2 linked regions of the Homo sapiens genome follow. The protein of the gene in region 1 purifies or fractionates together with the protein of each later gene. This does not show direct contact. Each region holds a gene or a part of one and is shown on either strand. Other genes may lie near its edges.

What was found.
Region 2: the proteins of ZKSCAN4 (region 1) and SCAND3 purify together in Homo sapiens (affinity purification with mass spectrometry; 2 studies listed by BioGRID and IntAct, with this or other methods). This does not show direct contact.

Annotation. Positions count from the first base shown.
Region 1 is NC_000006.12:28,245,633-28,249,552, reverse strand, and holds part of ZKSCAN4 (zinc finger protein with KRAB and SCAN domains 4), read left to right. Parts: intron 1-1,403; coding exon 1,404-1,486; intron 1,487-2,460; coding exon 2,461-2,584; intron 2,585-3,577; coding exon 3,578-3,920. UniProt on the Homo sapiens protein: May be involved in the transcriptional activation of MDM2 and EP300 genes.
Region 2 is NC_000006.12:28,573,416-28,577,335, reverse strand, and holds part of SCAND3 (SCAN domain-containing protein 3), read left to right. Parts: intron 1-1,199; coding exon 1,200-2,692; intron 2,693-3,508; coding exon 3,509-3,920.

The sequences.
Region 1 (3,920 bases):
GAAATTTCAAACAATGGTGAAAAACTTTCCTAACCAAACTAGGACATAGTAAATCTGATTTTATTAAAATTGATGTCTAGAAAGAATCGGTTTTTTAAACAACATGGTGATCTCCATTCATTAGATATATTTAGGGAGCCTTCATCTATGGTAGCCAGTGTTGTAGGCACTGGGGAGAGAGCCACCAATAAGACAGAATTCTTGCTTTGATGGAGCTTACATTCTAGCAGGGAGGATAGAAAATAAATTAATAATATAATTTTAGATATTGTTAAGTGCTATGAAGAAAATAAGGCAGAATTTGTAAAGCCAGCCAGAACATTCCAGAGATAGTAGGACTGCTGCAAATAGAAGAGTGTAAATCTAAACCCTGTAAAGCCTGTGACTAGAAGAGTGAAAATCACTTAATAGGAAGCAGCTGTGTGTTCCATGCTGTTCCTCATCTGCTGTGAACATCTGGGCCGATTCCTAAGACATACAACACTTGGACATGCCATCCAACATGCAATCTTTATTTCTCAGCAGAGTTTCTGGCCTAAACCAACTTATTTTCTGCCCCTTGCAAATTGACTTATTGTAGGGAAACCTAAGGTTTCTTCTGCTTCTGAGTCTGAGCAAGTTCTATTTAAGCAGTCTTCCAGTCTTCCATTGCCTCCTTTCTGGACCCAGCCTTATTTGACTCCTCCTAGTTTTTCTTTTTCTTTTTTCTTTTTTTTTTTTTTTTTTGAGATGGGGGTCTCACTCTGTTATCCAGGCTGGAGTGCAGTGGTGAGACCTTGTCTCACTGCAACCTGTCTCCCAGGCTCAAGCAATCCTCCCACCTCAGCCTCCTGAGTAGCTGGGAGCACAGGCCCATGCCACTACACCTGCTAATTTTTTGTAATTTTGGTTCAGACAGGTTTCTCCAGGTTGCCCAGGATGGTCTCGAATTCCGGAACTCAGGCAACCCACCTGTCTCAGCCTCCCAAAGTGCTGCGATTACAGGGATGAGCCACTGTGCCTGGCCTCCTCCTAGTTTTTCATACCTGAAGTGGAAAGCATCCTAATATCTACTAAAGACATTTTAACCAAAACAAAACAAAAACAAAAAACCCTCTTTACTCCCCATCTCCTAGCAAAATTCAAAACCCAAAGGTCTTCAAATGGAAAGCTTTGTTATGTTGCATTCATTTCACCACTCCTACCAACGATTCTGCACGTGGTTTTTGTATATCTGCAGAGTGCACCAGACTTCTTTCGGCCCTAGGGCTGGAGCTGGTGGGAATCAGGCATTTTTGAAAGGAACACATTCTGTATAAACTTATTGGCAAGAACTTACTGCCCCAGTTTTTGAACTTGGATTTTGCAAGGTGGGGAGGCTGAATACTAGGGTAGTTCTCATCCAGAGCTTCTTTCTTTCTTAGTTCTCCAGGTTCCTGGGCTTGCCCAGGGAGGGTGCTGCAGAGAAGATGCAATGGTAGCTTCCAGGCTCACTCCAGGGTCCCAGGTGAGCTGGAGCTCCTCTCCCTCCCCAGCGCCCCATACCTTTCACTACTGTTGGGCTCCGCATTAAGTTCCTCCCTCCCCAGTCCTACCCCACCCCTATCCTAGATCTACATGAATTTGAGTTTTCTCATCTATCCCAAAGTTGCATATAATTGTCCACCTTCATTTTGGTGCCCACCTAAGAGGACTTTCCTGTTTCACAACAACCTTGGAGTTTTCTTTGTACTTCTCAGATCTTTCCTCCTACATTTCTTCGGTCAGCCTCTTCTTCAATGTGATTTTTCTCCTTCAACAAGGGCAGTTCCGCAAAAGCAAACTGAAGGTTTTGTTGGGATGGTCATTCTGTTTTGCTTTTTAAGATACAATAAGCTGTGCTGTTGGTGAGGGATATAAAGGCCTGGCCCTTGCCCTCAAAGAACTTATACTTGAAAGGTCAGATAAGGCATAGTTATCTTGAAGTTATTTATATTACAATATGAACAATCTTTTCTCAACCTAGATTTCAATTTACTACTCAGCCTTTCCTGTCCTGCTTGAAGATCTCAGTGTTTGAGGCTGTGTAGTATCCTTTTTTTCCCCTAATTTTTCTCACTTCAGTTCTAGATTTCATTGTATTTTTGAAGCTATTAATGTAAATGAACCCCTACTCTCACTTTGCCAAAGCATACTGCAAATCTTTTGAAAATTTTGGACATAGTTCCATTCCTTTTGCTGCATTGACCCTTGTCTTCCAAACCTTTTTACTTTCTGGACTGTTTAGATATTTATATGAAAGTACTTATCCTAAAATGTGTGTAATATTTCTTTCATTTGGCAGGTTTTCTTGATTAAGATGTTATTAGAGATAAAGCTAAATTGGTGTAGGTGTGCCACACTTGCTCCTTTTTAAAGAGCCTCTTTAAAGGGGATGTTCATTCTTTGCTTTGGGGGTAATTTTGGGCAAGAGGAGCTAGTTAGGACTACCTATTGTTTTAGGGTTTGCTGAAAATGGAAGATGTGGCCCTGACCCTCACTCCTGGGTGGACACAGCTGGATTCATCTCAGGTGAACCTCTACAGAGATGAAAAGCAGGAGAACCATAGCAGCCTGGTCTCCCTTGGTAAGACTGAGACACTAATTTGTCTTAAGATTTCTTGGCATTCTTTGCGTATTAGAACCTATTGGGCTGTTAGAAGCTGTTAAGCCCCCATTATGTTTGGATTCAGAATCACCATTCCTGAAAGCCTGTTACTGACTACTAGCTCCTTACTCCTTCTGACCTTGCTTTCTCCTCTGTCATGCCAGTGTTCTAGTTAGGATAAGTGGGGTGAAATTGATACAACTCCTTGTACAGGTCTGGCTCATAGGAGATGCTCAGTAAATGTTGATGTCCTCTTGTTCCTATCCCTGACTGAAGAGGAAAGCTGCGGGGAGGGGGGGGCCTCTTCAGGAAATGGGCCATGGATTCAGAACGTGAGAGCCAGAAGCAACCTTAGACATCAACTACAGACCCTGACCTTAGGGGTGAGGGTGCAGAGGCGTAGATTACCTCACTTGTTTGAAATCTCATAGCTTATTTGTGGCACAGTGGGGGCTCTACCTCAGAACTCCTAGCGCCAATGCCAGTTCTGTTTGAGAACTTTGCCTCTGCCTGGGCACAGTTAGAGATGACGGTCCATGTCATTGATCGATCACCAGTCACCAGTTTCTTTGCTTTTGCCATTTCTTGCAGGTGCTTCAGAAATCCTTCCACTTGCCCTGTTACTGTCACCCTCTGCTCACCCCTTTCAAAATCTAATCCTAGGTGCATGGCCCTGCTTACTATTCTTAGAGCTTAGAACCATCACATATGTCCCCTGCATAGTCCTGGGTCCTCACCATTTTCCCTCCACTCCCAGTTTGTACCCTTCCAATGGCCCCATTCTCATTCTCAGGCCTCCTTCCTCCCCAGCACCCCTGTTCTCCCTTTTTATTCCCATTCTTATTCTAGCACTTAAATCCTCATCCTGGGCATATATAGACTTCTGTAATTCTTGTCTCCCTAGTACTCATCACAGAGCTTTCCTCCCATGGCAGGGCATAACCCACAGTTGCCGGCCATTTGTTGTTTCAGGTGGTGAAATACAGACTAAGAGCAGGGACTTGCCTCCAGTCAAGAAGCTTCCAGAAAAGGAGCATGGGAAGATATGCCACCTGAGGGAAGACATTGCCCAGATTCCTACACATGCAGAAGCTGGTGAACAGGAGGGCAGGTTACAAAGAAAGCAGAAAAATGCCATAGGGAGTAGGCGACATTATTGCCATGAATGTGGAAAGAGTTTTGCTCAAAGTTCAGGCCTGACTAAACACAGGAGAATCCACACTGGTGAGAAACCCTATGAATGTGAAGACTGTGGAAAGACCTTCATTGGGAGCTCTGCCCTTGTCATTCATCAGAGAGTCCACACTGGTGAGAA
Region 2 (3,920 bases), 330 kb from region 1:
AAGTATTTTTCCAAGCAACTATAAAACTATCTAGAGATGTTATGCTAATTCCAAATTATTATTTTTTACTTTTTCCAAAATAGTTTTTTTCCTTAACACTTAGCCAAATTTGAAGTATTCTTAGTGTTTCTGTTATTATGAGTATTCTAGAAATTTCTTTTAATAAGCTTTATTAAGTCAGAAATTTTTCACTGATTTTGACTCATCCAGTACTCTTATTAAAATTAGTAATGAAGCTATTTGTATTGAGTTTGTAGTTAATAGCCCTAAAAGGGAGCTGATATGAATATATTAGGTTGGAACTTACTCCTCAAATGTTGATGTAATAGCTAACCTGACTGAATAAAAGAGAAAATGTGTAGTGTGGAGATTTTTTTAAAAATCTATTATTGTCTTGCTGAGGTTCCTCCAAAAAAAAAAGTCTGAGACCGGGTGTGGTGGCTCACGCCTGTAATCCCAGCATTTTAGGAGGCCAAGGCAGGTGGATCATGAGGTCAGGAGATCGAGACCATCCTGGCTAACACAGTGAAACCCCGTCTCTACTAAAAATACAAAAAAAAAAAAAAAGTCTTTGCATAGTAAACAAACAAGTAAATGTTAATTTGCATCCTATTTTACATAAAACAGTGCTTCAATCCTGAAAACTGCTCTGGAAATTCATGTCCTGGCTTTCTGCTCTTTATTGTTTGAAACTTTTTGTTATTGGCTGGAGTTTCATTTACGCTCTTCATTCCACCAAAGTTGGATTCCTTAATCAAAATGGTATCCCCCTGGCCTGGTGCAGTAACTCACGCCTGTAATCCTAGCACTTTGGGAGGCTGAGGCTGGCAGGCAGATTGCTTGAGACCAGGAGTTCAAGACCAGTCTGGCCAACATGGTGAAACCCCATCTCTACTAAAAATAAAAACATTAGTCAAGTGTCATGGTGCGCACCTGTAGTCCCAGCTACTCGGGAGGCTGAGATAGGAGAATTGCTTGAATCTAGGAGGCAGAAGTTGCAGTGAGCTGAGATTGTGCCACTGCACTCTAGCCTGGGCAACAGAGTGAGACTCTGTCTCAAAAAAGAAAGAAAATGGTATCCCCTTTTGTGTGTCCATATTCCCTACTTCTACCTCAAGCACTACTGGCTCCTTTGGCAATATATGTCTTTTAAATTATATTCCTGAATATTCTAATTGATTTTTTTCCTTTGTTTTTAGGGTCATTTTTGTGGTTTTCCATGATGTCTCAAAGCATGGGTGGTGATAACCTCAGTAGCTTAGATACTAATGAAGCAGAAATTGAACCAGAAAACATGAGAGAAAAGTTCTTCAGAAGCTTAGCAAGGTTACTGGAAAACAAAAGTAATAATACTAAGATATTTTCTAAAGCAAAGTACTGTCAGTTGATAAAGGAAGTGAAAGAAGCTAAAGCTAAGGCGAAAAAGGAATCAGTTGACTACCGTCGCTTGGCTAGATTTGATGTTATCCTTGTACAAGGAAATGAGAAGCTAATTGAGGCTGTAAATGGGGAAACAGATAAAATACGGTATTACTTACACAGTGAGGACTTATTTGACATTCTGCATAATACACATCTCAGCATTGGACATGGTGGACGTACTCGCATGGAGAAAGAGTTACAAGCGAAATACAAGAACATCACAAAAGAAGTTATAATGCTGTATCTGACCCTCTGTAAACCATGCCAACAGAAAAATTCAAAACTCAAGAAGGTTCTAACATCAAAATCAATTAAGGAAGTTAGTTCAAGATGCCAAGTAGATCTTATAGACATGCAGTTGAATCCTGATGGGGAGTACAGATTTATTTTGCATTATCAAGATCTCTGTACAAAGTTAACTTTTTTGCGGTCATTAAAGTCTAAAAGGCCTACGGAAGTTGCACATGCTCTTTTAGATATATTTACAATTATTGGAGCACCCAGTGTCCTACAATCTGACAATGGGAGGGAATTTTCAAGCCAGGTTGTCAGTGAACTCAGTAATATTTGGCCAGAATTGAAAATTGTCCATGGGAAGTCTCAGACCTGCCAAAGCCAGAGTTCTGCAGAACAAACTGAGGATATCCGAAAGAGGATTTTCTCCTGGATGCAAACTAACAACTCATCACACTGGACTGAATTTTTGTGGTTCATTCAGATGTCCCAAAATCAGCCCTATCACAGAAGCATGCAACAGACTCCATGTGAAAGTGCATTTAGCTCTGAAGCTAAACTGGGCTTGTCCCATTCTCAGCTAACTGAAGAACTTGTTGCCAGCTTGCATACAGAAAATGAATTAGATCAGGCTGACAAAGAGTTAGAAAATACTTTAAGAGCCCAGTATGAAGAAAACATTGAGACTGGAACAGACAGTAGTGATATTGAAGAGAATCTTTCTGTCACTCCTAAGGTGGCTGAAAAAAGCCCTCCTGAGAGCAGACTAAGATTTTTATCCTGTGTAGTTTGTGAAAAAGAATGCACAGGTGTTAATAGTTGTATATCATGTGATGGAAATATCCATGCAATTTGTGGAGTGCCCTCTCAACATGGGACTGAGGGCTGTGGTCGGCAAATAACTTGTAGCCTTTGCTATGAAACCAGCACAATGAAGAGGAAACATGATGAGATTCAAAGAAGTTTGCCTGTTAAACCTTCCAAAATGCTAAAGCCATCAGGGACACCATTTTCACCAGACAAAGTAGGAGACTGGGTAAGATTGAATATCTGCCGTAGATGAAAGCAGGGGAAGAATCTCATTACAGTGTACTGTGAATAAGTGTTGTGTGACAAGGTATATGAAAGCACATTTTTATTACCTTGGATATATTTCCCCCAAAGAAGGCCTAATTACTTTTAATGCTTCTTCTCAAATCAAGTGAAGAAGTATTTGTAGGGGTAGGGGATGATAAATTTGCTTGGAAGATATGGGTTTGTGTTGGGAAAGACTTCAGTTTGGGAATTTAAATGGAGAGCATGAAATAGAACCAAAAAAATTTAAAATCAATAGGCTTTATGAAGTAGGGTTAATGTTTTGAAATATGGAGGTTACTTATGACTTAAACTAGTGGTACGCAACATGTGATCAGTAGAGCAGTACTGGTATAAAAACTCCAGTCCATAAGGAAATAAATATAAAAATTAAGCGTAAATATTTAGAAACCTTTATAACAATTGACATTACTGCAACATCCAAGCACATGATTAATGGACTCATCTTACTGAATAGAATATAGACCAATTTAGGTATTGTTAAACTCTCAAGGTGAGTCACATGTGGTGGCAGTTACACACTAGTCAAACACAATAGGTCCCCATTACAACCTGTGATACTTTATGTTTCGTTTATCAGCCATAACCCAAAGATGTATAAAACTCTGAGAAAATATAGGCATTTATTTATTTTTATAACTTAACTTTAAAATAATTTTTTATTTTAATCAAATCTAGTTTTTAACTTGTGGTATAACACTGTTAGCTGAAGGAGGAAAGTAAAATTCATATTATTTACTTTTATTCCTAATTTCAGATGGCGAAACAAGCTTCACTGGACTTTTTTGTCAAGAAAAGACATGCCTTTTCTGAACACAGTAGTAGTAATAAAAGAAATGTTAACAATAGAAGTTATCCTGAAGAAGGGAAAACCAAAAGAGTTCATGCTAGTTTCACTCGGAAATATGATCCTTCATATATTGAGTTTGGTTTTGTAGCTGTAATTGATGGTGAAGTACTAAAACCACAGTGTATTATTTGTGGAGATGTACTGGCTAATGAAGCAATGAAACCATCAAAACTTAAGCGACATTTATATTCAAAACATAAAGAAATAAGTTCACAACCAAAAGAATTCTTTGAAAGAAAGAGTAGTGAATTGAAAAGCCAACCAAAGCAGGTGTTCAACGTTTCTCATATAAACATTAGTGCTTTGCGGGCTTCATATA